4 linked regions of the Homo sapiens genome follow. The protein of the gene in region 1 interacts with the protein of each later gene in a pairwise test. Each region holds a gene or a part of one and is shown in the gene's direction. Other genes may lie near its edges. The genes, in order: INSYN1, WASHC3, CCDC146 and DTNB.

Region 1 (7,329 bases):
CCATGGCCACAGGGCAGCAGGTCCCAACCCTCTGGCTTCAGGATTTGGAGACATCTTACCCCATCTGGGAACCCAATTACTCAGTCAATCATTTAGTCAGCTCATTTAGTATTTCCTGAGTGCATCTGTCAGGCTCCAGTTGGTTACACGAGACAGAGACCCCACCAAACGAACTGGAGCAATATGAGGAATTTATCAGCTCTTAGAGATGAGTAGGATGTTGTTGCAGCTCTCCAGACTGAAAGAAGAACTGCAGGAGTGAAGGCCATGAGAACAAAAACTGGGACTCAATGCTGCTAGCATGCTCTCTAAATTCCTCTCCTCTCTGCTGCCTTGCTCAGCTTCCTAGATTGAGTGGGAAAAATGGCTTGTCAGCAGGTTTGGACCATAACATCCAGTTTTGCACCCCACTAGGAAGAGGGGTTCTTCCTCCCAGCATCCACATATCAATCCCAGGGAAAGAATCTGATTGGTCCTGCTTAGGTTATGTGCCCACCCCTTGGACCAATCACTGTTGCTGGAGGATGGGGTTCCACGGTTGGTGCAGTCTGAGTCACATGCCTAGTTAGTGGCAGTGGGATAGGGATGGGTGGGAGTAGTGGGCACTTTAACTGACAACCCACTAGGATTATGTGATGACAGCAGGGAGTTTCCCCAAGAAAAGGAATGCTAGAACTGGATGGTGGAAAACAGGCAGACAGGTAAAAATCGCTGTCTACTGTCTACTGCAGTGGTCCATGTGAGAGATGGGCAGACACACACAAGCCCATCATGAGGAGTTCACAGACTCACATGGAAATAAGGCTTACAGACATGAAGCCATGAATAAGAGCTGATAGCAGCTACCATTTACAGAGCACCTACCAGGTGCCAGGCACTGGGCCAAGTACTTCCATGTGCATTATCTTATTCCATGTTCACAGTGACCCTGGAAAGTAGTCATTATTGTCCTGATTTTTCTGAATCAGAGAGACAGTGAAATACATCCCCCCCCCTTTTTTTTTTTACAAGAGACCCAATTCAAGAAAGAATTAAAATGTTTATAGGCTGCTATCCTTGCTCAGAGAGGTTAAGTGACTTGCTCAAGGTCACACAGCTAGCACATTAAATGAATGCCCTGGGAAGCATTTGGTTAAGGGCAAAAAAAAGTGCTTCCATTTCTCTCCGTAGACTAAAGCACTAGGGAAGGCTGCCTAGAGGGTGGAGGTTGGCGGTGAATAAGCAGAGATCTAAAGGATGGGACATCTAGGCAGGTGGCCAGGGAGGTTGGGTGGAAGAAAGGATGGATCAATCCCCAAACACTAAGGAAGGCAGGTCTGAGCACCACCCAGATACTATCTATTCCCTCTCGCCTGTGGCAGCTCTTTGGAGATTTACAATCAGAGACCCCTTCTCCTGAGTCTCCTCTTCTCTAGCCTGCTCTGACCAGCCCTACCATCCTTCATAGAACATATACACCAGTCACCTCCCCTATTCTACTTGGCTGTCCTCCTATGGACACACCCAATGAATTGAGGTGCTAGGCACAGTTTGATCCACACAAATGACAGAAGAAATGTTACCTCCCTTTTTCAAAACACTGTGCTTCTATTAATGAGACCCGAGATCAATTATGTATTAAGCAGTCACAGTCCACCCTGTCCAATCAAGCTCACTGTCTCCTAACCTTGCCAGTTCAAACACATCTCCCTCATCCTGGATGAGGGCGGATGATTCCCTGGACCTAAGACTAGAAACTCTTTTTTTTCAGGCTTAGCCCATTTTTGGTCTCGGCTGTTCCTTAGCATCACTGCTTCCACAAAAGTGATTGGTGAGACTGTGTGATTCCACTTATATGAGGCACCTAGAGTAGTCAGAGTCACAGAGACAGAAGATAGAATGGTGGTTGCCAGGGGCTGGCGGGGGGAGGGGTGATGGAAAGTCACTGTGAGATGGAATAAGATAATGCATGTGGAAGTACTTGGCCCAGTGCCTGGTGCCTGGTAGGTGCTCCACAGAGAGTGGCTGCTATCAGCTCTTAATCACAGAGTTTCAGTTTGGGATGATGAAAAGGTTCTGGAGATGGGTGGTGGTGATGGTTACACAACAATGTGAATGTACTTAGTGCCACTGAACTATGCACTTACGAATGGTTAAGATGGTAGATTTTAGGCCGGGCGCAGTGGCTCACGCCTGTAATCCCAGCACTTTGGGAGGCCGAGACAGGCGGGTCACGAGGTCAGGAGATGGAGACCATCCTGGCTAACACGGTGAAACCCCGTCTCTACTAAAAACACAAAAAAATTAGCCGGGCGTGGTGGTGGGTGCCTGTAGTCCCAGCTACTTGGGAGGCTGAGGCAGGAAAATGGCATGAACCTGGGAGGCGGAGCTTGCAGTAAGCCGAGATCGCGCCACTGCACTCCAGCCTGGGTGACAGAGCGAGACTCTGTCTCAAAAAAAAAAAAAAAAAAAAGGTAGATTTTATGTTACGCATATTTTGCTACAATTTTTTAAGTGATTGGTGGGCCCTCTGGATCCACCCCATCAGAAGAACATCTCCCCAACCCAGGGCAGCTGGATTCCCACCCTCACAGCTTCTGGTTCTCCAAAGGCAACCCCTGAGCTGAATCTCAAGGAAGTAGGAGTCAGTTCCCCCAGCAGCCCCCTGTGAATACATCTCTGAGATAACTCAGAGACCAAGGAACATCATTAGCACCCACAGTACCATCACTGTCTCTGGAATTCAAGTCCCCCATGGGCCAGCCTAAAACCACCACCTAGCCCCACCTCCCTTGACCCCTCCTCTGCCTCTAGTTCAAGATCTCTGCTTCCCCGCCACTTAAACTTTTGAAAATGTCATCTGTACTCACTCCTGTTCCTCACTGTTGGGCACATAGTCCTCGATGCCCAACAGTTTGGTTCCTGTCACCTTCTACCCTCCAAAACCAATTGCCCCTGCCATGTCACCCGTGGCCTCCTGAGTACCAAGACAAATAGACACTTTCTGTTCCTTCTCTCACAGCCACTCCCTGCCGCGTTCGACACTGATGAGCACTTGCTTCTCCCAAACTCCTCCTACTGGGCCTACATAACTCTCCACTTTCTGGTTCTTCTCCTATCTTTCTAATCACTCCTCCCTCTCACTCATGGACTCTTTTCTGAGGTTCCAGCCCAGAACTACTGCTTTTGTTACTTCTACGCAGCGTCCCTGTTCATCTCACCCCTCTAATGATGGTTCAAAAAAAAAAACAAACAAAATGTTACTCTCAAGCCCCAGCCTCTCTCATGAGCATAGATTCATAGACTCCACTGTCTTCTGGCCAACGGTGAAATAGCCTCCTAACTGCTCTATCTCGGTGGCACCTCCTCACACCCACTCACAATGCCCCAGAGGGGTTTCCTGAGAAGGCAAGCAGGCCCAGGTTCCTCCCAATATCAAAGCTCCCTCCGCCCCGGGATAAAATCTAAGCTCCTAACCATGGTCTCTGAGTCTCTCTGTGGTCTGCAGTCAAAATGGTATCTAAAAGGCCCCAGTTAACTTAAACTCCCCTCCTCCCATTTCTGCTTCTGAGCCTGTGCTCCCACCCTCCTCCCTGCCTGGAATGCTGATCCCCAACCCCCCACACTGACAGTCACTCCTACTCCTCCTTTGAGATTCAGCTCAGGGGTGGCCTACCTGGCAGAACCCGCCAGGCCCTGGCCTGAACTGCACCACCCAACCCACACTTCCCTACTCCCCTGTTAACATTGCTTCCAGAATTTGCCTCTGTTGTGACTCAGGAGTGTCCCCGAGCCGTGAGCTTCCTGAAATGCTCTGGTGGCCCCGGAGCCTAGCATGGAACCTGATGCACAGAAGGCCTCTAATACATGAGTCAATTGTTGAATAGCTGAAGGAAACGATGGGTGTCCAAGACAGCCTCCAACCCCCAGCCCTGCCGACCCAGAGCTTGGCACACAGTAGGTTCTCAGGAAAGGTTGGCAGTATTCTATTTTCTGAATGAATGTGATTTCAGGCAAGGTCAGGGGCTGGGTTATGTGGGTGGTAGAAGGGAGGGTCTGGATGCGGGAAACGTGGCCAAAAGGGAAGCTTGGGGGCAGTGCAGTAGGGGAAGGGGGCAATGGGGGTGTCTGGAGAGGTGGGAAAGGAACGAAGTCCCCAGAACGCTGTCCCTCCGCGCCCCAGGTCAGCCGGCGTGGGGTCCGGTCAGTCCGCCTCCAGCCCCGCCAGCGAGACCCTTCCCCCTCGCCCGGGTGGCGAGACCCCCCTGGCTCGCACGCTTGGCCCTCGGGGTTGGGAGGCGTGTGTGTCGCTTTAAAAGCTCCCTCCCGGCGCGGCGGGCCGGCCCCTTCCCTGACAGCGCCGAGGCAAGCGGAGCCAAGCGAGCCGGGCGGCCTTTAAGGGAGCCAGCGCCCGCCCGGGCGGCCAGTCCGGCGGGGGGCGGCGGGGCGGGCCGGGGGCGGCCGGGGCGCGGGCGGCGCGGCGCCGCGGCGCTTGGGGAGCGGGCCCAGGCCCCGGGAGCCCGGCGGGGCAGGGCAGGGCGAGGCGGTGAAGGGAGGCCCAGCCCCGACCCGGCGCCTGTTTGCCCCACCGGCGGCGACCCGGCGCCCGGGGGCTGCTGAGGCGGGGAGCCGAGAGCGAACGGACGGGAGGTAGCGGAGCCGAGCGGAGGCTGCGAGCCTAGTGCGCCCCGGCCCGGCCCGGCCCGCCGCTCGCCCCCTCCCCTCCCTTCCCCTCGCCGCGCCTCCTCCCCTCGCCTCTTCTCGCCTCCTCTCCTCTCCTCCGCCCGGCGCTGCTCCCGCCTGCGCCCGGGCCGCCGAACCCAGCCCGGCCGGGGCCCCCGGCTTCGCGCGCTCTCGGCTGGGCCCGGCGGGGACCGGGTCCCCGCGGCTGACATCGCCCCTCCTCGGGGACCCGGTGGATTCCGGACCTTTCGGAACGTGAACTGAGCCGTGGGAGCGGTCTCGCCCAGGGCCGACCGCGGGGCTGGGCTGAGCAGACCCTCGCGGCCGCTCCGGACGCCGCGGGTGCCGGGGCACGGACGTTCTGGGTCCGGGCTGAGCGCGTCCCGGGCGCCCGGCGGTGCCAGCTCACTCCGGGCGGGGTAGGGCAGGGCAGACCCCAGCGGAACACGGACCCGGCCGATCTGGACTGGACAGAGCGAATCCCGGACGGTGCAGAGCCCGGGGAATGCCGGGCGTGGGCTGAGGGGATCCCGGCGCCCTCCCAGCCCTCCGACTTTGGCTCACGCGCTGGGACCTGCCCGGCGTCTCCTCGGCCTCCCCGCGCCCCGGTCACCTGTGGCCTCGGAGCCCCAAATCTGCCGGACCCTCGCTCATTCCCGACCCCGAGCCTGGAGAGGCTTGAGAAAGATTTTTCCTGCCCCCTTCCCTGGAGCGCGGAGGCCCCGCCCCCTCCCACCGCCCAGATGTCTCCGGTCACGGCTCGGAGGACCTCCCTGAGGCCCGGGGCCGAAGGGTCCAGAGAGAGAAGCCCGCCCTAGGGAGCCTTGGGGGCCCCCCAACTCCGTCTTGGGGCTTGGCCCCCGACGCTGCTTGGAGGGAAGGCCGGTGCCCCCACCCTCGGTGAGTCCAGGAGTGGGGGTTCTGAGGGAAGGCGGGGCTGGGGGAGGGAGGGTCCGCTGGGAACGAGGGCACCCTGGGGGCGCTAGGAGGGAGGATGGGTGACTGGAGAGGCCCTCTGGTGAACCAGCCTGGGCAGGCCTGGCTGGGGGGAAGGTGGGGGGGGAGGGCGGGAGCTACGGCCAGGGTGCCCCGTAGCAGGCTGAGGACTTCTGCTTCTAAAGCAGGGGCTCCCTCCCTTTCCCTCTAGAGGAGGGGCTGTGCTGTAAACCGTCTGCCTCCACCACCCCTCCCCACAAAGAAAAAAAAATCCCCAGCGAGGAAGGGTGCAGGCTGGCGAGAGGAGGGAGGCAGCGGCATTGCCGGCTGGTGCTGCAGCCTGGGAGGGCTGACGCCAGGCTCGCTCTCTCCGCAGGGGGCTGCCCTCTTCCAATCCAGCTCCCTCCCCAGAGCTGCCCATATCCGGAGCCCCTTCCACATCTGGAAGACCCTGGCCACCATCCCTCTGCAGGTGTCAGTTGCATCCAGAGACCTCTGCCTTTGCAACTGCCTAGGAGTTGTGAGGGGATCCCTGCTGCCTTCCCCCATCCCAAGGGCATCTCTTACCCTTAGTCCCTGCAGAGTCATCCCCCTGCCTCTGTGTTCAAGCTCAGGCAGAGATCAGCTCTGCACACCCACAGGCACTTCAAGACCTGGAGGCCACTCCTGGGACCCAAGGTCCCTCCCCCTCCTCTCCTGTGTCCTCACCTTGACCCCCTCTGCTAGACTCTGTCTCCCTCTGGGTGTCCCACTCTCCACCCAGAGGCAGAGGAGGCTGGGTGGCAGGGGGCAGGGGCTGGTTGAGGGCCGCCCAGGGCCAGGGTGGGCTGGGGGGCCGTTAAAATGTGGAGCTCTGCCCAGCCGAGGGGGGCTCCGTGGAGGCAGACGCAGTGTGTGCCCAGCTGGGGGGAGTATGGGCAGGCCTGCGGCCACGTGGTAAACGATGAACATTCGGGGCGCCCCGGACCTCGGGCAGCCCAGTGACGACCCCAGCAGTGGTGGTGAGCGGGAGCGGATTCGACAGCGCATGAAGATGGTCATCGGGCAGCTTGAGGGCATCCTTCGCGAGCTCAAGGAGGTGGCCAAGGAGCTGAGGGAGGTAAGTGAGGGGTGAGGAGGGACCAGACAGACCCTAAGCCAACCTTCTTGGGTTTGGCACAAAAACGTACTCATAAATACGTTGGAGTGTGCAAAGCTGCGTGCACATGTGTCACTCTACTGGGGACCTTCTTTCTCCTTGCTCTCCTTTCCGCAAATCTGCTTTGCTAAAAATCTCATCAGACCCCAAGGCTGGAGGGGCCTCGGTGTTGTAGAGGTTACTTGAGCAGCATGTCAGTGGGCCTGGAGCTCTGGGTTAGCACAAAGGGCTGCCAAGATGGCCAGTAAGGACTGAATCCCGCCACAGCTTCTTAGTGGAAGACAACCTTCTGGGACCCAAGCTGACCCTTGAACCCACCATCTGTCTCCCAGACTCTGATCTGGTCACAAGGGACCCTGGGAGAGTGCAGATAGTTGTGCTGAGGTGGTTTCCACTGCTTGAGGCCCAGCTCAAAGCATATCCCTAGAAATCACACAGATACTGAGAACCCTTGATCTTGGAAAAATTTAAGCCAGCTATGTCCTCTTTGTCCGGGGGTAAGAATGGGTCTGGGGGTGCTGTAGTGGATAACAGAGTTCCTTGCATATTTTGGCAGGGGCAGGAGTCTTCCCTAAGGGGATGCGAGTCTCCAT
Region 2 (7,027 bases), on another chromosome or scaffold:
GGTCGCACATTAAATGACCATATGGACAAGTTAACCTTAGTTATTTCCATGGCCATAGAGTCATCCCCAAAGTTAGCCAAACATCGACAAATGCGTGTCATTGATATCAGGATGAACTCAGAAAAGAAGGTTTGTATGGGTCTCGCAGATCTAACCTGAAATGCTTAACTATTTCATAGTGAAAGCTAAACCATTTCAGGTTGAAATACCAACAATATGCCCATTTTTTTGCATAGAAGAAACATATTTTAATAACATTCAGTGGTGAATGTTCAAAGAAAGAAAAAAGAATGAGCTGTGTCACACATTAAAGTGTAAAGACAAGAGTTTTGTCATATCCTAGATAATTGAAACTCAAAATTTGCACAAAGCCCTTTTTTTTCGAAGTATTATCAATAGAAATATTTTTACAACAACTTTTCTAGGTACATGTTCTTATCTCCACTTTACAGGTGAGATAATTGAGACACAGGGAGTTTTACACAAGATCACACAGCTTGTGAGTGGTAGAGCTAAAAGTTAAACCTGACAGTCTGACTTCAAAGACCAGGCTCTCAGTCCTTACACTAGGATTGTCTATATTTTGAAAATGATGGTTATGTAAACTAAATTAGATTTTTGAGAAGTTCTTCAAAAGAATTTGTGACCGTCTTTCACTTTTAGTTTATGACATGGAAAATTAAAGACAAGATATTGTGAACCTATTTGTATAGCCTTAAAACTTAAGACAGCTATTAAAAATAGTGTTTATTTATGCAAGTACTATCTTCATATTCCAATACTAATTTTCTTTTCTCAGTTGTCATCTATCCCAGGCCTAGATGATGTCACAGTTGAAGTATCTCCTTTAAATGTCACCAGTGTCACAAATGGAGCACATCCTGAAGCCACTTCAGAGCAACCACAGGTAAGTGAGTTCTAAGAAACGAGCAGATGTTCTTGGTTGAAACTGATAGTGTTAAGCAGCAGGTTGGAAGGAAGAAAAATAAACATGTAAAACTTCTAATAGTAAAATTTTAAAACCTTAACATAGAAAATGAAGTTTGGGAAAAACAAATTAGCTGTGTTATTTTGAAGGGCTTCCTGAAGTTAATACTTTCTTTGCCTGTAAAAAAGAAAATCAGTCTATATAGGACTAGGAAAAAGCTTCAAATAATTATTTTCTTCAAAATAATTAGAAATTTTTCTAGGTTCTTAGAAGAAATGTACTTTTAAAATATTTTATTGTAAAATTTTTAAACATACACAAAAATAGACCTGGATTCACCAGTTTTCACAATTGCTTCATCTATTTTTTTGGTCACTTGCTGAAATTAATTCCAGACATCTTGTCATCTCACCCTGCATAAATTTTTGAGCATCTCTGAAAAGTTTTGACATTTTCTTTTGTAACATTTGCTTATATAAATGCCTTTATCATATACAGTGTAATTAACAATAATTGGCCAGGTGCAGTCACTCAGGCCTGTAATCCCAACACTTTGGGAGGCTGAGGCAGGTGGATTGCTTGAGCTCAGGAGTTCGAGATCAGCCTGGGCAACATGGTAAAACCCTATCTCCACTAAAAATACAAAAATTAGCCAGGTGTGGTGGCACGCACCTGTGGTCTCACTACTCGGGAGGCTGAGGTGGGAGGATCACTTGAGCCCACGAGGCAGAGGTTGCAGTGAACCGAGATTACACTACTGCACTCCAGCCTAGGTGACAGCGCAAGTCCCTGCCTCAAAAATAAAAAATAAATAAATAAATAAAACATTCTCTGGTATTGTCTAACCCCTTGTTACTCAAGTACACGCCATGGACCAACCACATGGGCATCACCTGGCAGCTTGTTAGAATGAAGCATCTCAGGCTCCACCCCAAAACTGCTGATGAGAATCTACATTTTAACAAGACCCCTAGGTGATCTGTAGGCTCTTAAAATTTGAGAGCTACTGATCTTAGAAATACCAGTGTGTTTTTGAAGATGATTCGTTTGAATCAGCATCCCAGTAAAAGCTATACTTTACATTTGGCTCTTAGATCTTAACATTTACTTATGCTTCTGTATGAATTTAAATTTTCTATTACTTTTTATTTCAAAAAATAAAAATTCTTTGTTGTTTGAGAACAATCTCTAGTGTATCTCAGCGAGGTATTAAAATCTAAAACAAAGTAATCATCAAAATGGTGGCCTACCAAAGTAATAATAATAAACAAATAAAACAAACAGATTTATAAATGGAATTCTGCCTTTGTACCTGGAGGCACTTTTCACAGGATATTTTTTAGATCACGATGATGTTGACAGTGATGATAACAGCTAACACTTCAAGAGTGCTTTCTGTGTACCAAGGCATGCACGTTTCTAAGTGCCTTTCATAAACTAATTTAATCTTTACAACAGCCCTATAATGTAAGCACCATATTATCAATCTTAGTTTATAGATGGGTCAAATGAGGTATATAGAGGTTAAGTAACTTGCTGAAGGTCGAAAAGTAACGTAAGAGCTAGAATTTTAACCCAGACAGTCTGGTGCCAAGAGCCCTAGCACTTACCTGCTTCACTACACTATACTACACTACACTACACTGTTTTCAGTACCTGTATTCAATTTATTTAAACATATTGAGGATGCGTGGTATGAGGCCCTGTAGAAAGAGCCATATATTTAGAATATAGTATATATTTGGGTAATAAATTAGATGATCATTTACTTAATTAGATATTATAAAATTTAACATCCATTTATTTAATATAGCAAATTTCATTATGGCCACTCAAATATATAAAATGTGCAAGAGGATATCCAGATGTTGTAGAGGAGTTTAACTTTACATTCTCTCAATTAAATATGACTATCCTCTTTCTAAAATAAAGCGTCTATAAAGAATATTAAGAAAATATTTCCACACTACCTAGTAGTTATTATGTGGTAGATAGAGCTGTCATATATTTCTGTAAGATTTTTAAGTATACCTGTCTAACTTTGATTATTAATTTTTCCAGGTGCTATTATGAATGCCATCTATAATATGCCCTTTAAAATTCTTATGCAGTTGTGTTTGTCCTCACATATTTAATGTCCCAAAAATTGATTACCAGTAATCACAGCTGAATTTCTTAATTTGCTTTGCAAATTCAGAATAACCTGGTATATCTCTGGCAATTTTATTTAAAAATTGTATATGTATTTATTTAGAGGGTTTATGAAGTTCTGTTGGCTTCCAAAGTTTGAAATACTGTGATAAAATTGTGTGTTGATTAGCTTAATAAAATAACTGCTCAGCATGTTCTTAATATTCACATCAACTTCTCATTTATTCATTGTTATTAATTGGTATATTTTATACAAAATATTTTGAAGTGGGCTTAAGTATTGCTTAATCCAGAGTTTTCATTGACATTATAGTCAACTCACTTATCAGACAAAGGAGAATAATGCACTTTTTAAAAAAATCATCTGTTTATCACTCTCTCTAATCTATACATGAGTCAAAGACCCAAGGTTTGTGTACTGATTTTTCTGCAACTTTAATTTCATGGTTCAGATTTCATCATTATTCACAATAGAATATCCAATTGTGCAGAGTGAGATTGATTTGAGAATAAATGAAGGACAGTTGAGAGATATGATAGAGGATTTAATGGGTCATTCAAATAGCAAAGGTGTAATACATTTCATAATTAAACCTTGTTGAGGTCTTGGTTATTAGGCAAAAGTTAACGACTGAGAATTGATATCTGGCCAGGATGTAGTTCATTTGCACCATTTTGCTATTATATGAGTTTAATTTCCATAAATTGTTAAAAAACATACTTGGTTATTGTTTTAATTTTTTATTTAATTAACAGTGTTTTGGAATTTTTGTATTTGTATTATAGATGAATATGTGTGTGTGTGTGTGTATATATATGTATATATATATACTCACTTTGGTAAAACTTAGCAATATCATGTAACAGAAGAAACCTAAAGGATTTTTGGATGTTTATTTGCTTTGTAGTTTTTGACAGATTTAATTTATATTTGAATTATCTGAGGAAAAACTTCAATATGTAATTCACATTCATAGTCTAAAGACTATGAAGATATAAAGATATTGATTTATCTACATTTCAGAATGAACAATAGACATAAAATTGATTTCTTCTAAGGAAATTCTTTTAATGCTTATATACAGATAATGAGAGAGATTCACCAAAGTAAGCTTTTTCTAAATGTTTGGTTTGATAGAAAAATCAAGTACTGTATACAGGCAGTTCTATCTAGTTTTGCATTTAAGCAAGGATATGGTTCTCATATGCACAAGTTTCAGTAACATGGTACCATGCAAAATGAAGACTGCCTGTATAACAATAGCATTTTTATCTAAAAAGACCATTCCCCAGTATTCTTTATTGTAAGTCATATTTAGTATGACATTATGACTTTTAACCACTCTGTAGACAATGTTACCATTAATAGTTCCATCAGTATCTGAAATGTATAAAACCAGATAATTTTGTCTGACAAACTGGCTTCTCTTTTACAACTTCTCCAAAAATTGCTTTCTAAAAGTTAGAAGAGCCATGTCCACTTAGAATAAAATGATTTAATAAATAAAGGGCTCAATTAGGTAGATTCTAGATACCTAGGAAATCAATTCATCATTATCTCAATAAATTTATTATTAATTTGTAAACAGTTGATAGTTTTATTAGCTTTCTTAAAAGTTTTGTTAAAATAGTATCACCACCTATATATAATTCATGCTTTGTATCAGCACTCTGGGGACAAGTAAAGCAGAATTTTTATTTTAATGCATGAATATACTTGCATTTTAAGGAACCAATATAGTGTTGAAATGTAACCTTCTCTGAAATGATATTTAAATATTTGTAGATATTTGGAAACATATCTCATATTAAATTATTGGTATTTAAATTGGGGGAGATGATTTTTTTCTGCAATTTACTGCCTTAGAATTATGGAAAGAAACATTCCTTTTAAGTAACATGATAGACCCCTTTTGTAAATTGTCTAAAGATTTACACCAAATACTCTCTACAGCAGAACAGTACACAAGACTCTGGACTACAGGAAAGTGAAGTATCAGCAGAAAATATCTTAACTGTAGCCAAGGATCCAAGATATGCCAGATATCTCAAAATGGTTCAAGTGGTAAGCTAACTTGGTCTGTCTTCTTTGTGTAGCAGCCTCACTTGAAATTCTTAACCCTGGAGGTTTTACTGTTATTTTTTTCAATCTGAGAAAACTGCTAAACCAAGTAACCAAGTTTTCTATTCTCTTACTTCCTTTCTATTTTAATTCTCTGATTAAAAAAAAAAAAGGAAGTCAAATCTTTAGAATTGATCCCACACTTTAAATTAACATAGTTTAATATAGATTTATGTACATTTTTTTGCATTACACAAAGTTATCAATGCAAATCTTAGATACAGAAAGTAATGAAAGTAGACTATTCATTTGGTAAATCAGTTGACTCTAGCTTAATCCCCATATTATTAGCACAAATAATATTTTTTAAAAATTTTTATGTTTATCAATGATCTCTTGGCCATGTGTAATGCTTTTAATATTATATGACTTCAGAATTCATATTTTTCCTGAGAAATCATAACATGCTGTGGTACCAAAAATATCTGCAGTTGTCTGTGATAGCAGAAGCTAACATTTTTTTATTCCTTTAGAAAGTATTTCAGTAGTTGAAAGAGGTAGTTGTCCATCATTTTTCTGTTAATCAAACAGTTAAAGCCTGGCGCAGTGACACACACCTCTAATCCTAGCACTTTGGGAGGCTGAGGTGGGAGGATGACTTGAAGACAGGAGTTTGAGACCAGCCTGGGCAACAAAGCAAGACCACCTACTTCTACATTAAAAAAAAAAAAAAAAAAAAAAACCTAACTCCATATGATGGCATGCACCTGGTAGTGCCAGCTACTCAAGAGGCTGAGGTGGGAGGATTGCTTGAGCCCAAGAGTTCAAGGGTGCAGTGGCTCACCTCACTGATTGTGCCACTGTACTTCAGCGTAGGTGACAGAGCAAGACCCTGTCTCAAAAAATAATAATAATAATAATAATGCTTTTGTAAAATTATATTATCAAGCAAAAGAAGCACAATACTAATACTAAAGGACAGTTTTGTTTTGCTGTCCATGGGATAGTTTATCACCTAGTAATTTAAAAGCAAATTCTGACAACCAGAAAGAGTAGATTGGCTCATTTGGAAGCTGCACTTTTCCTAGCTATCAGAAGTGGATTTTTCACTTCCACAGTTCTTTTTTTCTGAAGCCTAGAGCTCAGGATATTGGCGGTCAATTTAGAAAAAAATAAACCAGACTTTGGGATGAAAATAGATGAAGTTTTTTTAATTAACAAGAATAAAACAAAGCCAGTTTAAGTATGAATCATGATGAACACGTTTTTAAAGCTAGAACCCAGGAAAGCCTAAGCTTAAAAGATAGACTTGTTAAAAAACAACAACAACAACAACAACAACAAAAACTATTTCACTCTTTTAAACAAAAGGGAGATGCTTCTAAATGACTCAGAAAGATTTTTTATGTTAGCCCCTTCTTGCCAAACCTATATAAAATAACAAACAGGAAAATCTACTAGGTGATACTCTGTAAAAATGCCCTGAAATCTTTATGAAGGCTGCATCTTAGGATAACTGTTAAATTCTTGATAATTGTCTTCAATTTTATAAGAACTTCAAAAAATCTTTTTCTTTTTAAATCCACCATCTGTTTATTTCACAAATATTTATCAAACACTTACTTGAAGCTAAGCTACTGTATTAGGTATTATCTAGATTTATTTAGCCAACTAAGGTTTCCAGATACCACTTGCAATTTTTATTTTTGTTACTAATTACGTCAACAAGTTCAATTGCTTTTCAGTCATAAATATACATATAAAATAAATGACCCGGGCCGGGCATGGTGGCTCACTCCTGTAATCCCAGCACTTTGGGAGGCCGAGGCGGGCGGATCACTTGAGGTCGGGAGTTTGAGACCAACCTGACCAACATGGAGAAACCT
Region 3 (7,027 bases), on another chromosome or scaffold:
ATAAAAGTGTCCTGAGAATGTAGGCTAGGCTAAGCTATGATTTCAGTAGGTTAGGTGTATTAAATGCATTTTCAACTTAAGGTAGTTTCAACTTACAACGGGTTTATTGGGACGTCACTCCATTGTATGTGGAGGAGCATCTGTACCTCCATAAAGGGAATCTGGGCAGAGGACCAACAGTATTTGCTACACTCAGTTACCTCCTCTTCAAAATGATAACAAATATAGCTCTCTTACAAGGTCACCGTGAGTATTAAATGGGATAATTAAAGCACACAGGGCAGATGGTAAGTATCTACATATTGTAGTTCCTTTCTCTCTCATATTTAATTTTCTTGTCTTAATTGCTTCTAGCCGAAGACCGCATAATTTAACATGATTTCGTTTCTTTACTAGGATGAAGTGGCCCACCATCAAACCATTCCAGTACAAATTGGAAAAGAGATAGAAAAAATAACACGCAAAAAAGTGTATGATTTAATATTTTTACTTTGAATCCCTGCCAGTCCAAGTTATGTGTGCACACTAGAACAAGAGTACTAACCATTGGACACATTAAATTACTATGATAATTTTAGAAATTTCTGCTTTGGGCCCTGTCTAGGTTGTTTATATCAAGTTCTTTAAAAGAAAGTAATGCACCAAATTTCTATCATTCATAGTATTTATGGCTTAATTATGGGTCAAGATTCTGTTGCCAATTTATAAATCATATTTTTATGGAGAAGTTCAATTGACTTTAACAGAGCGGTGCATGGGATAAATTATGCGAACTGGTTAGAATTTCATAGTCTAGAAGTATATCAGCCAGGCAGCAGCCCAAAGCCCAAATAATAGTAACTCCCCACTTTGCCACCCATTCATGTGTATAACACTCCTCAGATATTCAGAGTAGATTGGGAGGCAGAGGTCATTGAGGAAATTCTCAGTGTTTAAGGAACCAAAAAAGATAAAGATTTTAAGTGAAGATACAAAAATTCTGGAAAAATAATATAATTACTCTGGTGACTAATCTTAAGGGGAAAAATTAGGCAGGCACTAGTAACTGTTCTAAAAACTAAGCTCACCAACATCAAAGTTGAGAAACTCAGGTCAGTTTCAGGAGGCTGGTCAGGACGAGGGTTGAATCACAGGAGATGGTAGCAAATTGGGATCTGCACAGAAAGTAGGGAGGCTGGGCAAATTCCTGCCTTCCGTGGCACTCAGTGGAGATACCCTCCAAGTCCCACCCATCTGTGGTCTTTACCCACTGCTGAGATCATTGAATTTATGACTATCTCTTCTGCTGCATGGTTAGAAAGCAAGAATAGGTAAAGCCAGCATGGCCTCAAAATAAGGCAAGTGTGTGTGTGTGTGTGTGTGTGTGTGTGTGTGTGTGTGTGTGTGTGTGTGTGTGTGTATCCCCTACAGAGAAATGGAAAAGAAAAAAATTGTCTTGGAACAAGAAGTCAAAACGCTAAATGACTCCCTAAAGAAAGTTGAAAACAAGGTTAGTGCTATAGTGGATGAGAAGGAAAATGTAATAAAGGAAGTTGAAGGCAAACGAGCCTTACTTGAAATCAAAGAACGAGAACATAACCAATTGGTCAAGCTATTGGAATTAGCCAGAGAGAATGAAGCAACTTCATTAACTGAAAGGTTAGTTATATTTATGTATGTTATGTTCTGTCATCTAAATTTTTCTTCAATTTATATTTGAGAATTCAAAATCTCACTTTGGTGTTGAGTTAATAAATATTTAAAAATAATTTTAAATCAACTTTTACCCTTAATATATTATCAAATAAAGCACTTTGAAGTATTTTTTGATACTTTACTCAAATTTTCTCAATTTTCTGTTACCAGATTTTCAGGATATAATCTGTTGTATGTTGTAAGTTTCTGAATGTGCCTTTGGAAAATTTATCACTGGAGTATGTTATGTTCAGGGATTTTGCCAACAAATGAATGATACTTCTTAGGCCATCTTGACTTTTTTCTAACAGAAGCAATTTCGTGGTGTAATTCCCTAGGAGAGTTTTATGTCCTGCTTTTTTGTTTGTTTTTTGAGATGGAGTCTTGCTCTGTCGCCAGGCTGGAGTGCAGTGGCACGATCTTGGCTCACTGCAACCTCTGCCTCCCGGGTTCAAGTGATTCTCCTGCCTCAGCCTCCCGAGTAGTTGGGACTACATGTGCGCACCACCACGCCCGGCTAATTTTTTTTTTTCTTCTCATTAGAGACAGGGTATCACCATGTTGGCCAGGTGGTCTCGATCTCTTGACCTCGTGATCCACCCGCTTTGGCCTCCCAAAGTGCTGGGATTACAGGCATGAGCCACCGCGCCCAGCCTATGTCCTGCTTTTAAGTAAAATTTCAAGGAAACTGGAGGCTTCTATCTCTGCCAGTCTGTTATTTTTTTGGGGGGTGGGGGTTATAAGACTGCAGTTCTAAATGATACCAACTCACAAACCTAGTTGCCTTTGGCATTATTTACAATTTATGATTCCAACATGAGAATAGTCATGTGTGTATATACTGAGCATGCTGTCTTTTATTAAACTTTTAAGTTCAAGGTTACACATACAGGTTTGTTATAGGTAAACTTGTGTCATGGGGGGTTGTTGTACAGATTATTTTGTTATCCAAGTATTAAGCCTAGTACCTATTATTTTTCCTGATTCTCTCCCTCCTCCCATCCTCTACCCTCCAAAAGGCTCCAGTGTGTGTTGTTCTTCTCTATGTGTCCATGTATCCTCATCATTTTGCTCCCACTTATAAGTGAGAACATGTGATATTTGGTTTTCTGTCCCTGCATTGGTTTGCTAAGGATAATGACCTCCAGCTCCACCCACGTTCCTGCAAAGGATATGATCTCATTCTTTTTATTTTATTTTTTATTTTTTATTTTTTGAGACGGAGTCTCGCTCTGTCGCCCAGGCCGGACTGCGGACTGCAGTGGCGCAATCTCGGCTCACTGCAAGCTCCGCTTCCCGGGTTCACGCCATTCTCCTGCCTCAGCCTCCCGAGTAGCTGGGACTACAGGCGCCCGCCACCGCGCCCGGCTAATTTTTTGTATTTTTAGTAGAGACGGGGTTTCACCGTGTTAGCCAGGATGGTCTCGATCTCCTGACCTCATGATCCACCCACCTCGGCCTCCCAAAGTGCTGGGATTACAGGCGTGAGCCACCGCGCCCAGCCCTCATTCTTTTTTATGGCTGCATAATAGTCTGTGGCATATGTACCACATTTTCTTTATCTGGTCTACCATTGATGGGCATTTAGGTTGGTTCTATGTCTTTGCTATTGTGAATAGCACTGTGATGAGCAAATGTGTGCATGTGTCTTTAGGATATAACAGTTTATATTCCTTTGAGTATATACCCAGTAATAGGATTGCTGGGTCAAACGGTAGTTCTGTTTTTAGGTCTTTGCCAGAAGAGATTGGGAGCCAATATTCAGCATGCTGTCTTGATAAGTTTTGAAAAACATTTAGGACAGCTGATAACAAAATCATTTTCTTCTTCTTCCTTTACCTGGAACAGAGGGATCTTGGATCTCAATTTACGCAACAGTCTCATTGACAAGCAGAACTACCATGATGAACTTTCTCGTAAGCAAAGAGAGAAAGAACGAGATTTTCGAAATTTAAGAAAGATGGAACTGCTCTTGAAAGTGTCCTGGGATGCACTTAGGCAAACTCAAGCACTGCATCAAAGGCTTCTATTAGAGGTGAGGGCTGTAAACTACCATCTGATTTTTAAGCTCGGTGCTAACTTTTGAAGTAAAAATATTTTAGGAAGTTGTTTTTGCTGCCAGTAGAGAAGAAGAAAATACAAGTAACAGAGAAAAGGTAATTTTCAAATGCGTCAAGCCTATTATGAAATCTATAGTCCTATAATGTTTCGTAATCTCATTTTTCTAACCCAAGATTAGAGAAATGTCTTGTTTGGATCAGTCATCCTTCAGCCTGACCTGGGGAAATGACTGGACTATCCAGTTCTAGAAGAGCTAGAGGGTTCACTGCAGAATGGGGCCAAGTGGATCATTATTTTCACCAGTTGAAGGAGTCAGATCCGGCATGGTGTCATGGCAGACTATAACAGTGAAGGACTAGATCAAATTACATAGACATAAATGATCAGCAGCCTGCACTTCCGACTAGCCAAGGGCAATCCAGAACCCAATATCAGGCTGCCTGGCTAATTCTGTGCAGGGTCAGAGGTGTACTCCAGTCAGAAGATGCTCAAGACAACTGTTACCTGCCTCTGTGTTCCCAAGTGAGGGGTCTGGTTGCCCCTGGCTCTCTTTTCTCTCAGAGGGCACTCCCTGTGGTAAATGACCAAGCGCCACTGAAAGGGCAGAGGATCCTTGAGAGGGCTTCAGCCTTGTGCTAGAGCCTTCCTTGAGCGAAAAAGGGGTCAGCCTCTGAGATGAAGCAGCTAGGTGTATAGAAACCTTCCCCGTTCTCTTCAGGACTGTCATGCTCCAGAACCTTATGGAGGGTCATGACCTAAGAAATTTGAACAGGAGTTTCCAGCTGTGGTAGACACCTCTGATCCTAACCTATGCCTAGTTCTCCTCTCCTCCTGGGCACATAGAAAGTTTATACTTCCTTGCACCCTTTGCAGTTGAGCAGAGTCATATAACTCATTCTGGCCAGAGGATTGTAGACAAAAGTGACACGTGTCACTTCCAGCCTATAACATCTAATTGCCAATGTGAGACCCTCTAGCTGTTTTTCCCTCTCCTGTGGTAATTGTGGAAGTGCATGACACCATGGAGGTGCTGTAAAATGGGAGCAGCCGGGAATGCTGAGCCAACAGTGGTCTCAGAGTCCTCTTGATTGCCCACCGGCTTTGTAGGAAACAGCTTTGGTAGTTCGAAGCCATGATATTTGGAGGTCGTTTATTTCTGTAGCATAACTTAGCCTGTCCTGACTGAAAGACCAACCTTAAGCAACATGTGTGAAAAAATCGGTTAGGGTTATGAGTGTTACGAACAACTAGGACTTGGACTTCGTCTTGCTGTCAGATGGCACTTATAATCTTTTCAAGAAGTTCTCTGGTTGGGCACAGTGGCTGCTGCCTGTAATCCCAGCACTTTGGGAGGCCGAGGTCGGCAGATCACCTGAGGTCAGAAGTTCAAGACCAGCCTGGCCAACATGGTGAAACCCTGTCTCTACTAAAAATACAAAAATTGGTCGGGTGTGCTGGTGCACACCCATGATCCCAGCTACTTGGGAGGCTGAGGCAGGAGAATCGCTTGAACCCGGGAGGCGGAGGTTGCAGTGAGCTGAGGTTGTGCCACTGCACTCCAGCCTGGGCAACAGAGCCAGACTCCATCTCAAACAAAAAAAGGAAGTTTTCTATCTCAGTGAGGCAAAATGTACTTTTATAGTCTTTTGCAAAACCAATAAAACATGTATGTTCTACTATATATGTGTTTTCACAAATAACTTTTATATAACTGTTATATATAGTATATTTATGATATATATACTTCTTATTTAATCATTTTATTGCAATTCCAACAGGTAGATTTATTTGTATCACTCTGAAATCTCTTTAACTCTAGTAGTACTTTTTGCCTTAAAATATTATTTTGTCTGATTTTAGAATAATAACATCAGTTACACTATCTTTTGGCGTGTTAGATTCTGCATGGTATTATTTACTTTGATTTTTTTTTCTTTTTCTTTTTGGAGACAGTCTTGCTTTGCTGCCCAGGCTGAAGTGCAGGCACCATCTCAGCTCACTGCAATCTCCACCTCCCGGGTTTAAGCAATTCTCGTACTTCAGCCTCCCAAGAAGCTGGGATTACAGGCATGTGCCACCAATACACAGCTAATTTTTGTATTTTTAGTAGAGACAGGCTTTCACTATGTTCGCCAGGCTGGTCTCAAACTCCTGACCTCAAGTGATCCATCTGCCTCGGCCTCCCCAAAGTGCTGGGATTACAGGTGCGAGCCACCGCACCCAGCCCTATTTACCGTCACTCTTTCTGTGTCCTCATTTTGGTGTGTCTCATATACACAGCACATACTTTTCAAAATCTAGTCTGATAAGTTCTGCCTTTTTAAATTCTTGTATTTAGTCTAAAAATTAATACTTAATGTAATTGTGGATATATTTGTCCTTATTCTGTGATATTACTTTTGCTTTCTCTGTATCCCATCCGCTTCATGTTCCATTTTCTCTCCCACATTTCCTTCCTTGGGATTAATCAACGTTTCATATAGTTCTGCTATCCTTGTTTTAGATATGCATCAGTTAGTTTTACATTCTATTTCTATTCTTTGGGTGGTTACCCTGAAGATTACAACAGTCATCTTTGACTTACTAGAGTCAAATATAAGTTATTTGTATTTTTACTACTTCCAAGACAGTGCTAATACCTTTGATGATTTTAACTTTACTAACCTTTGCAACTCTTATGCCCTCAAACATATTTTCACTCCAACTTTCCAAGTTATTCTTGTTGGAAGCATTGGTTTACTATAAGCTACTCCATCTTAGCCCGAAGCACAGCACGTTAGGATGTTAAATTGGAACTTTGGGCAAACACAGACCCTGTGGCCACCCCTCCTCAGTCATAGTAAGATTTATAGTAGACCGCAGTTATAATGTCCATTCAAAGTACTGACGGAAACCTCAGTGTAATGAGTAAGACTCTTAAAACCAGCAAGTGTTGCTTGTACTAATAAAACAATTCCTGTTTATTGATCAAATAACTGTTCAGTAAGATTTCTTTAAACAATGGGATAAAATGTATAATTACCTTTAATAACCAATTTTGGTAGTTATGGTAGTAAGTAAAGTTAATCCATTCAATATGCTTCTAATGCTGAATCATCAAAGCATTCTTAATATTGAAGAGTAAGGTAACCTAAATAGAAGCAATAATTTGTCTCATAAATTAATACTTCTTAGCTCAAGAAGGGTTATACATTGGTAAAAATCACAAGATTGGTTCTAAAAGACTACACACAAAAAAACAGACTTAGGTTCACTTCTACCAGAAAATCTAGATTAAGTACCATAGAAGGGA
Region 4 (7,027 bases), on another chromosome or scaffold:
CCTTCCCATACCGCTGTGGTGGCTCCTTGATGTTGTCTGGGACTGATGTTCTTTATTTGACCACAGAATGTTTTCCTCATTGTTGGCTAAAGAGTTTCTTCTCTTTAAACTTAAGAACTAGTTGATAAATTTTAGATTCCTATTGTGAAGGGTAGTACCACACTTTAAAATTGTTGACAGTTTATTTTCTTTGTCTTTTAGTTCATCTTGTTGATATCTGGAACATGATTGAAGCCTTCCGAGACAATGGCCTTAATACACTGGACCATACCACCGAGATCAGTGTGTCCCGCCTCGAAACTGTCATCTCCTCCATCTACTATCAGTTGAACAAGCGCCTTCCTTCTACTCACCAAATTAGTGTGGAACAATCTATCAGCCTCCTCCTCAACTTTATGATTGCTGCATATGACAGGCTAGTAGTACCTTACCTTACACGCTTACTTCATTTTAAGAACACCTGTCTCTGAATCATTCTTCTTCCATACTGCCGTGCTAAGTTGCCTTGCTAAGCTGGCAACTTAGAATCATGATTAAAAGGGAAATTATTGGCTGGGCACGGTAGCTCACAGCTGTAGTCCCAGCACTTTGGGAGGCCAAGGAGGGCAAATCACAAGGTCAGGAGATGGAGACCATCCCGGCTAACACGGTGAAACCCCGTCTCTACTAAAAATACAAAAAATTAGCCGGGCGTGGTGGTGGGCGCCTGTAGTCTCAGCTACTTAGGAGGCTGAGGCAGGAGAATTGCTTGAACCCAGGAGGCAGAGGTTGCAGTGAGCAGAGATTGCACCACTGCACTCCAGCCTGGGCGACAGAGCGAGACATTGTCTTAAAAAAAAAAAAAAAAAAGGAAAATTATTCGGTGTAAGCCCCTCTAGAAACTGGTTCACAGTGACTTACTGTCCTAGAGTATGTCATATATTAAACTCTGGAATATTGTGGAGAATCACATTTGAGATGTATTGTTTGGGAAAATTATAGATACCTTAATACAGCTGTCCTCCAGCTCATGAAAAACACTAAGTTTTGAATTTGATTATGGGGCTTTCTATTTGACTTCTAAGTCTCCTCTTTCTTTTTTCTTCTATGCCTAGTTTGTTCAGAAGGCTAATCTTTACTCTGTAACATCAAATATTGGACTATAGTAACTGATTTTCTCTCTTTTTTTTTTGAGATGGAGTTTCTCTCTTGTTGCCCAGGCTGGAGTGCAATGGTGTGCAAGCTCGGCTCACCACTACCTCCACCCCCCGGGTTCAAGCGATTCTCCTGCCTCAGCCTTCCAAGTAGCTGGGATTACAGACATGCGCCACCACGCCCAGCTAATTTTGTATTTTTAGTAGAGACAGGGTTTCTCCATGTTGGTCAGGCTGGTCTCAAACTCCCGACCTCAGGTGATCCGCCCACCTTGGCTTCCCAAACTGCTGGGATTACAGGTGTGAGCCACCACACCTGGCCAAACAGATTTTCTCTTTATGTCTAGGAACCTATTTTAAATTTTTTCATTGCAGAACATAGTTTAGTAGATCTTGAAACAAAAGAAGAAAACTATTTAAATGTACTCCAATTAAAACGGAAATGATTTGCTGCACTTATATTCGTAGAGAATTGAGTTGGTATTGTAAAGAATGAAACAACAAAATTGTAAAGCACAGATTTATGATTGTGGAAGTACAGAGGTTAAATGGTGATGTTCTGTGAACCAAGAGTTCCAGTTTCTGCTATACTCTTGGCCATCTGATTTGAATGGATTGTCTCTGCTTCATTTTTTGCTGTCTGTAGACCTTCTTTGAGTTCATACATTTGTAAAATGCTATTAGTTATATCTTATAATAGGGAGGAGTCTGTGAATTAGTGGTAACACTATGGAAATGTCAAAGCCAAGTCATAATTTAAGCACTCACTAAATTCACACCATTTTTATAAGCCGTTATCAGATTAGACATTGTATCCGTTTAATAGAAAATTATTAAAGAAATTTACTTATTTTTTTGAGATGGGGTCTTGCTGTGTTTCCCAGGCTGGTCTAACTACTGGGCTCAAACAGTCTTCCCTCCCCAGCCTCTCTAGTAGCTGGCATTACAGGTGTGTACCACTGTGCCCGGCAGAAATCTGAATTTTAAAAATAAGAGTGTGTAAGTGTCATAAGTCCCAGAATTCTAATGCCATTTTTTAGTAATTTTAGTTAGTGACTCCATAGGTTAATTTTTTCCTGCTCAGGAACTGTCTTTTTGTTTCAAAACCCTTAGTAAAAATTGTTATTCTGTAATAAGTAAGCAGCACCTTATCATGACACTGACTCACTCAGTAAACCAATTCATGGGTCACACAACACAAATTAACTCAAGAAACAATATTTTTTAAAGTCAGAAATTAAAACCATCTTACTGTCTAAAAATGGTCAAGCAGAGATTAAAATCTTGGATTCCATAATCATGTCAAGTAAGTTAAATACTATGGCGCTTTAGTCTACTGGGCTGCTCTAACAAAATGCCATGAACTGGACTCTCTATAAACAACACAGATTTATTTCTTACAATTCTGGAGGCTGGGAAGTTCAAGATCAAGGTAGATTCTGTGTGTGGGGAGGGCCTCCTTTCTGGCTCCTAGACGGCACCTTTTTGTGGTATCCTCACATGACAAAGGGGCAAAGGAGTTCTCGGGAACCTCTTTTATAAGGGCACTAATCCCGTTCATGAGGACCCCCTCGTGACCTAATTATCTTCAGAAGGTCCCACCTTCTAATACCGTACCTTGGGGGTTAGGATTTCAACATGTGAATTTTGGGGAACACAGGCATTCAGGTTATAGCATATGGCTAAAGAAGGGAGAGGAAGGAAGAGGGCAGAGATGGCAAAAGGGAGAATGGGAGGACCAAACTCAGAAGCAGAAGGTACAAGGATATCCTGGGCCATATTCCGAGAAAGCTAGACACATACAGAGAGACGAGAATAAGTGGACAGTGAATCAGTTGAAGGCAGATGTGTAGAAACACACACCGAAAATAACTAGCAAAAAAAAAAAAAAAAAAAAAAAATGAGTGAGTTAAGAAGAGTAAGGGGTATAGTATGTTATTAGTGAGTTGGGTAATTTTTACTTTGATGTGTTTAAAACATAGACCATGGTATCAGAATAAATGATCACATCTTTACTAACTTTGATACCTTTATATAATAGAGCTTATTTGGCTATCTGGAAGCTTAAAATTGACCTTCTTGTGTTGGAAAAAAAGAAAGAATCTGGTTATCAGAATGTTAATTTTGAAAACCAGGGCATTTTGTCGTTAAATACTTCAAATGTTAGTCTTTTTATTGATTGGCCGCTTTATTACTTAGGCTGGAGAGTTCCTTTTATACATAGACAACCTAGTTATTTATTTTAATTGAGGCTTCCAGCCTTTGTATTTCATAATTCCATAAGGTTAAAGTTTGAAAGCAAAAATTATTTAATCTTCTCTCACCTCCAAATTTATAGTCCCTGTGTTTGGCCAGATGATTTCTGATCATTATAATAAGAGAGTATAAGACCCTACAACAACGGTCAGGAACAAATAGGATCTAAGACTTTTCCTTAAGTATTTTCTTAAGACCTAATTTTTTTTAATACTGAGAGTTCTGAATATGTTATATTTTGATAATTAAAAACATTGAAAAGCACAGAGACCAATATTCACAAAACACCTGGGTGTAGAATCTTAGTGAAAGCCACAAGGAGTTGTGAAAACACTGATAGCTGCATTTTTTTCCTCTCAGTTTCTCCGGTACAATGTTATTGGTAGTCATACAGTCTGGTGCAAAGGTACAACAAAGGTGCTTTAACCAATATAATAACGATATCCAAATTCCCAGCATGAGATAGAGGAGGTCTTCCTTACTCTTCTATAGCTGAGCCAGTTTCACACTTTAAGGTTTGTTACTTAAAAATCCCCTTTCTATTTCCAACCTTTGTGTTAGTCCAGTGTCTTTAGCTGTAAAAAGCCTACCCACATGGCCTTTTCATAACAACATGTGTATAGGCTGACAAACTGAGGGGTCCAGAGGCAGGCCAGCCCCTCATCTTGGTTGCATCAGAGCTCTGGCTTTATTTCTTTGCGCGGCTTTGCCCCCTTCTTGTATCAGCTCCATCCTTAGGCTGACTTCACAAAATCCCTGTGAGCAGCTTCTACTAAATGCCTCCTCTTTGAAGTTGAGGTTAAGGAAGAGTTGGCTTCTTTGAACACCGAGCAGAAGTACCCATCTTTTAGACACCCATGACACAGCCTCAGGAGGTCCTGACAATGTGTGCCCAAGGTGGTCAGAGCACAGCTTGCTTTTATACATTTTAGGAAGACATGAGACATCAATCAGATACGCTTAAGATTTACATTGGTTTGATCTGGAAGGGTGGGACAACTTGAAGAGGGACAGGGAGCTTCCAGGTCATAGGTAGATTTAAACATATTCTGATTGGCAGTTGGTTGAAAGAGTTATGATAAAGAGTTGTGGAGAGCTAGGTTTTATCACACAGATGAAGCCTGCAAATAGTAGGCTCTAGAGAGAATAGACTGTAGATGTTTCTTCTCAGACTTAAGGTCTGTGTTGATGTTAACACTGGAGGGTATCATGAGGCATGTCCATCCCCAGCTTCCCATCATGGCCTTAACCAGTCTTTCTGGTTAAATTTCAGAGTGCCCTGGCCCAGGAGGGAGTCCACTCAGATGGTTGCAGGGGGCCTTTGAATTTTATTTTTGGTTTACACTTACAATCTAATATCTAGATTTCCTGTGGTTCTTTTTGTACTGTTTGTTGTTTCTGGTTTTCATTAATGATGTTTTATTTCCTATTTGCTTTGTTATTTTTTATTATAGGCTGAACATTATATAGCAAAATTATTTTTATTATATACCAAACATTATATTGCAGAATTATTTGCAGGGATAATTTGAGGCCTAGGATGATGTTTTCTTCAAGAAAGGATGTGTGTTTGCTTCTTCCAGGTGCCTGGAGACCTTAACAATCCAGGATCACGTCAATTCAGTTTCTTAATCAGTACATGTGAGGACCTGTTTACTTCTGGACACGATTACCTTTAGGTGAAGCCTTTGGGCTCTGAGCCCAAACTAATAGGAGAGTAGGGTAAGCAGGACCACGTGTCCTGCCAAGGGACCCCTTCTGCCTTGGCAAGTCCAAGCCTCCATGTCTTTCTCCTTGTCCCCAGTACCATCAAAAAGTTACTCTATACTTCAGCAATTTTGCTTCCCCCTCTGGAATCAAATCACTTACATGGAAAAAGTGATTTCATCCATTGCACTCACCTCCCTGGACATCCAGCCTCTCCTGCATTTGGTAACTTCAGTTGTTAGTTCTCAACAATTTATATTCAAGGAGATTTTTTAAAACTTTCCCCATCTTTTCTTTTTTGCTCAGAGGAAGAGTTGATCAGAATCACCTAGGGTGCTATTACCAGAAGCTCATTATTTCTTCAAATATTTCCTCTGTTTTTGTTTTCTCGTTTTCTGATTGTTGGCATTTCTACTTCTTTCCTCTTTATCTATTAGTGTTCCTCACATATGGTTTAATTTCTTTAACTTTGTTTCCTTTTGGAAGAGTTTATTGATCTGCCTTTCTGCTCATTAATTTGTTCTTCCTCTGGAGCCATCCTACTGTTTATTCCATCTGTTATTTCTTTAGCTATTATATTTTCTATATGTAATATATCTGATTTTTCTTTTTTGGGATTTGTGGTTCTTGTTTCGTATTGTCTTTTTAAACATGTTTATTCTTAGTTTTAAATTCTTGGTCCATTTGTTCTAGGACTTATGCTTCCAAACCTGGTGTATGTTGTTCTGTTTTGTTTTGTTTTTCTAAGTAGTTGTATCCCTGTGTCTAAGGACTAGCCAAGGAGTGGATGTTTGCTGAGAATGTGGGCAGAACTTGGACATGTGGGCTAGAGTGTTCACATGCATGCATAGTCCTTTCAAGCATGGGATGTGCTGGAGGTGGGAAGAAAAGGGGATCAGGTTCTTCCCACGTAGGAGTATGGGGTGCCTTACAGTTCTAAATTTGAACATGACATTTCTGGCCATTATAAAGGTATGTTAGTCAAGGTACAAAGATGGAAATAAATACATATATTTATTTATTTTTCTGTCGTCCAGGCTCTAGTGCAGTGGCACAATCTTGGCTCACTGCAACCTCCACCTCCTGGATTCAAGCGATTCTCATGCCTCATCCTCCTATTTGGGACTACAGGCATACGCCACCACGCCTGGCTAATTTTTATATGTTCAGTAGAGACGGGGTTTTGCCATGTTGGCTAGGCTGGTCTCAAACTCCTGGCCTCAAGTGATCCACCCGACTTGGCCTCCCAAAGTGCTGGGATTGAATACAGCCATAAGCCACTGCACCCGGCCAGATTGCTCTTATACTTTATTTCTGACTGTTGAATCTTATTTTTTCCTCTGATATATTTCATCCATTTATGTTTTACAAATGAGTCTGTGGCCTTTACCAAAAGTGTTGGTTCAGAAATAGAATGAAATTTCACCTTAAAAATGGAATAAACTGGTAAAAAAAAAAAATGATGTATCTAATGAAACTAGTTTGGACAAAGTCTGTAAAATACATCTAAATCTTAAAAAATACAAAATACGGTATTGAACACATCATTTAAAGGCCTAGGGTTATTGTTTACCATCTACAATAACACTCAGTAGAAAACATTCTTGCTAATTTGAACAATCGAAAGATTCCTTTGGTGTAAAGATACTTATATAATTTATAATAGAGTTATATGAAAAAATTCCTGTGTAGTTTGCAAATGTGGCTAACAACCATTTAAAAATGTTGGTTTAGGCTGGGTGCAGTGGCTCATGCCTGTAATCCCAGCACTTTGGGAGGCTGAGACAGGCGGATCACCTGAGGTCGGGAGTTCAAGACCAGCCTGACTAACATGGAGAAACCCCATCTCTACTAAAAAAAAAAAAAAAAAAAAAAAAAAATTAGCCAGGCATGGTGGTGGTGCATGCCTGTAATCCTAGGGAGGCTGAGGC

Evidence for each region.
Region 2: the proteins of INSYN1 (region 1) and WASHC3 interact in binary tests that used the Homo sapiens proteins (3 or more experiments, as listed by UniProt).
Region 3: the proteins of INSYN1 (region 1) and CCDC146 interact in binary tests that used the Homo sapiens proteins (3 or more experiments, as listed by UniProt).
Region 4: the proteins of INSYN1 (region 1) and DTNB interact in binary tests that used the Homo sapiens proteins (3 or more experiments, as listed by UniProt).

What each region holds. Positions count from the first base shown.
Region 1 is NC_000015.10:73,750,343-73,757,671, reverse strand, and holds the start of INSYN1 (inhibitory synaptic factor 1), read left to right. Parts: upstream 1-4,320; 5' UTR 4,321-5,562; intron 5,563-5,809; exon of another isoform or gene 5,810-5,974; 5' UTR 5,975-6,541; coding exon 6,542-6,697; intron 6,698-7,329. UniProt on the Homo sapiens protein: Component of the protein machinery at the inhibitory synapses, probably acting as a scaffold. Inhibitory synapses dampen neuronal activity through postsynaptic hyperpolarization.
Region 2 is NC_000012.12:102,037,985-102,045,011, reverse strand, and holds part of WASHC3 (WASH complex subunit 3), read left to right. Parts: intron 1-799; coding exon 800-907; intron 908-5,033; coding exon 5,034-5,144; intron 5,145-7,027. UniProt on the Homo sapiens protein: Acts as a component of the WASH core complex that functions as a nucleation-promoting factor (NPF) at the surface of endosomes, where it recruits and activates the Arp2/3 complex to induce actin polymerization, playing a key role in the fission of tubules that serve as transport intermediates during endosome sorting.
Region 3 is NC_000007.14:77,258,599-77,265,625, forward strand, and holds part of CCDC146 (coiled-coil domain-containing protein 146), read left to right. Parts: intron 1-396; coding exon 397-470; intron 471-1,410; coding exon 1,411-1,638; intron 1,639-3,522; coding exon 3,523-3,709; intron 3,710-6,757; exon of another isoform or gene 6,758-6,865; intron 6,866-7,027. UniProt on the Homo sapiens protein: Essential for sperm flagellum biogenesis and male fertility.
Region 4 is NC_000002.12:25,621,559-25,628,585, reverse strand, and holds part of DTNB (dystrobrevin beta), read left to right. Parts: intron 1-201; coding exon 202-415; intron 416-7,027.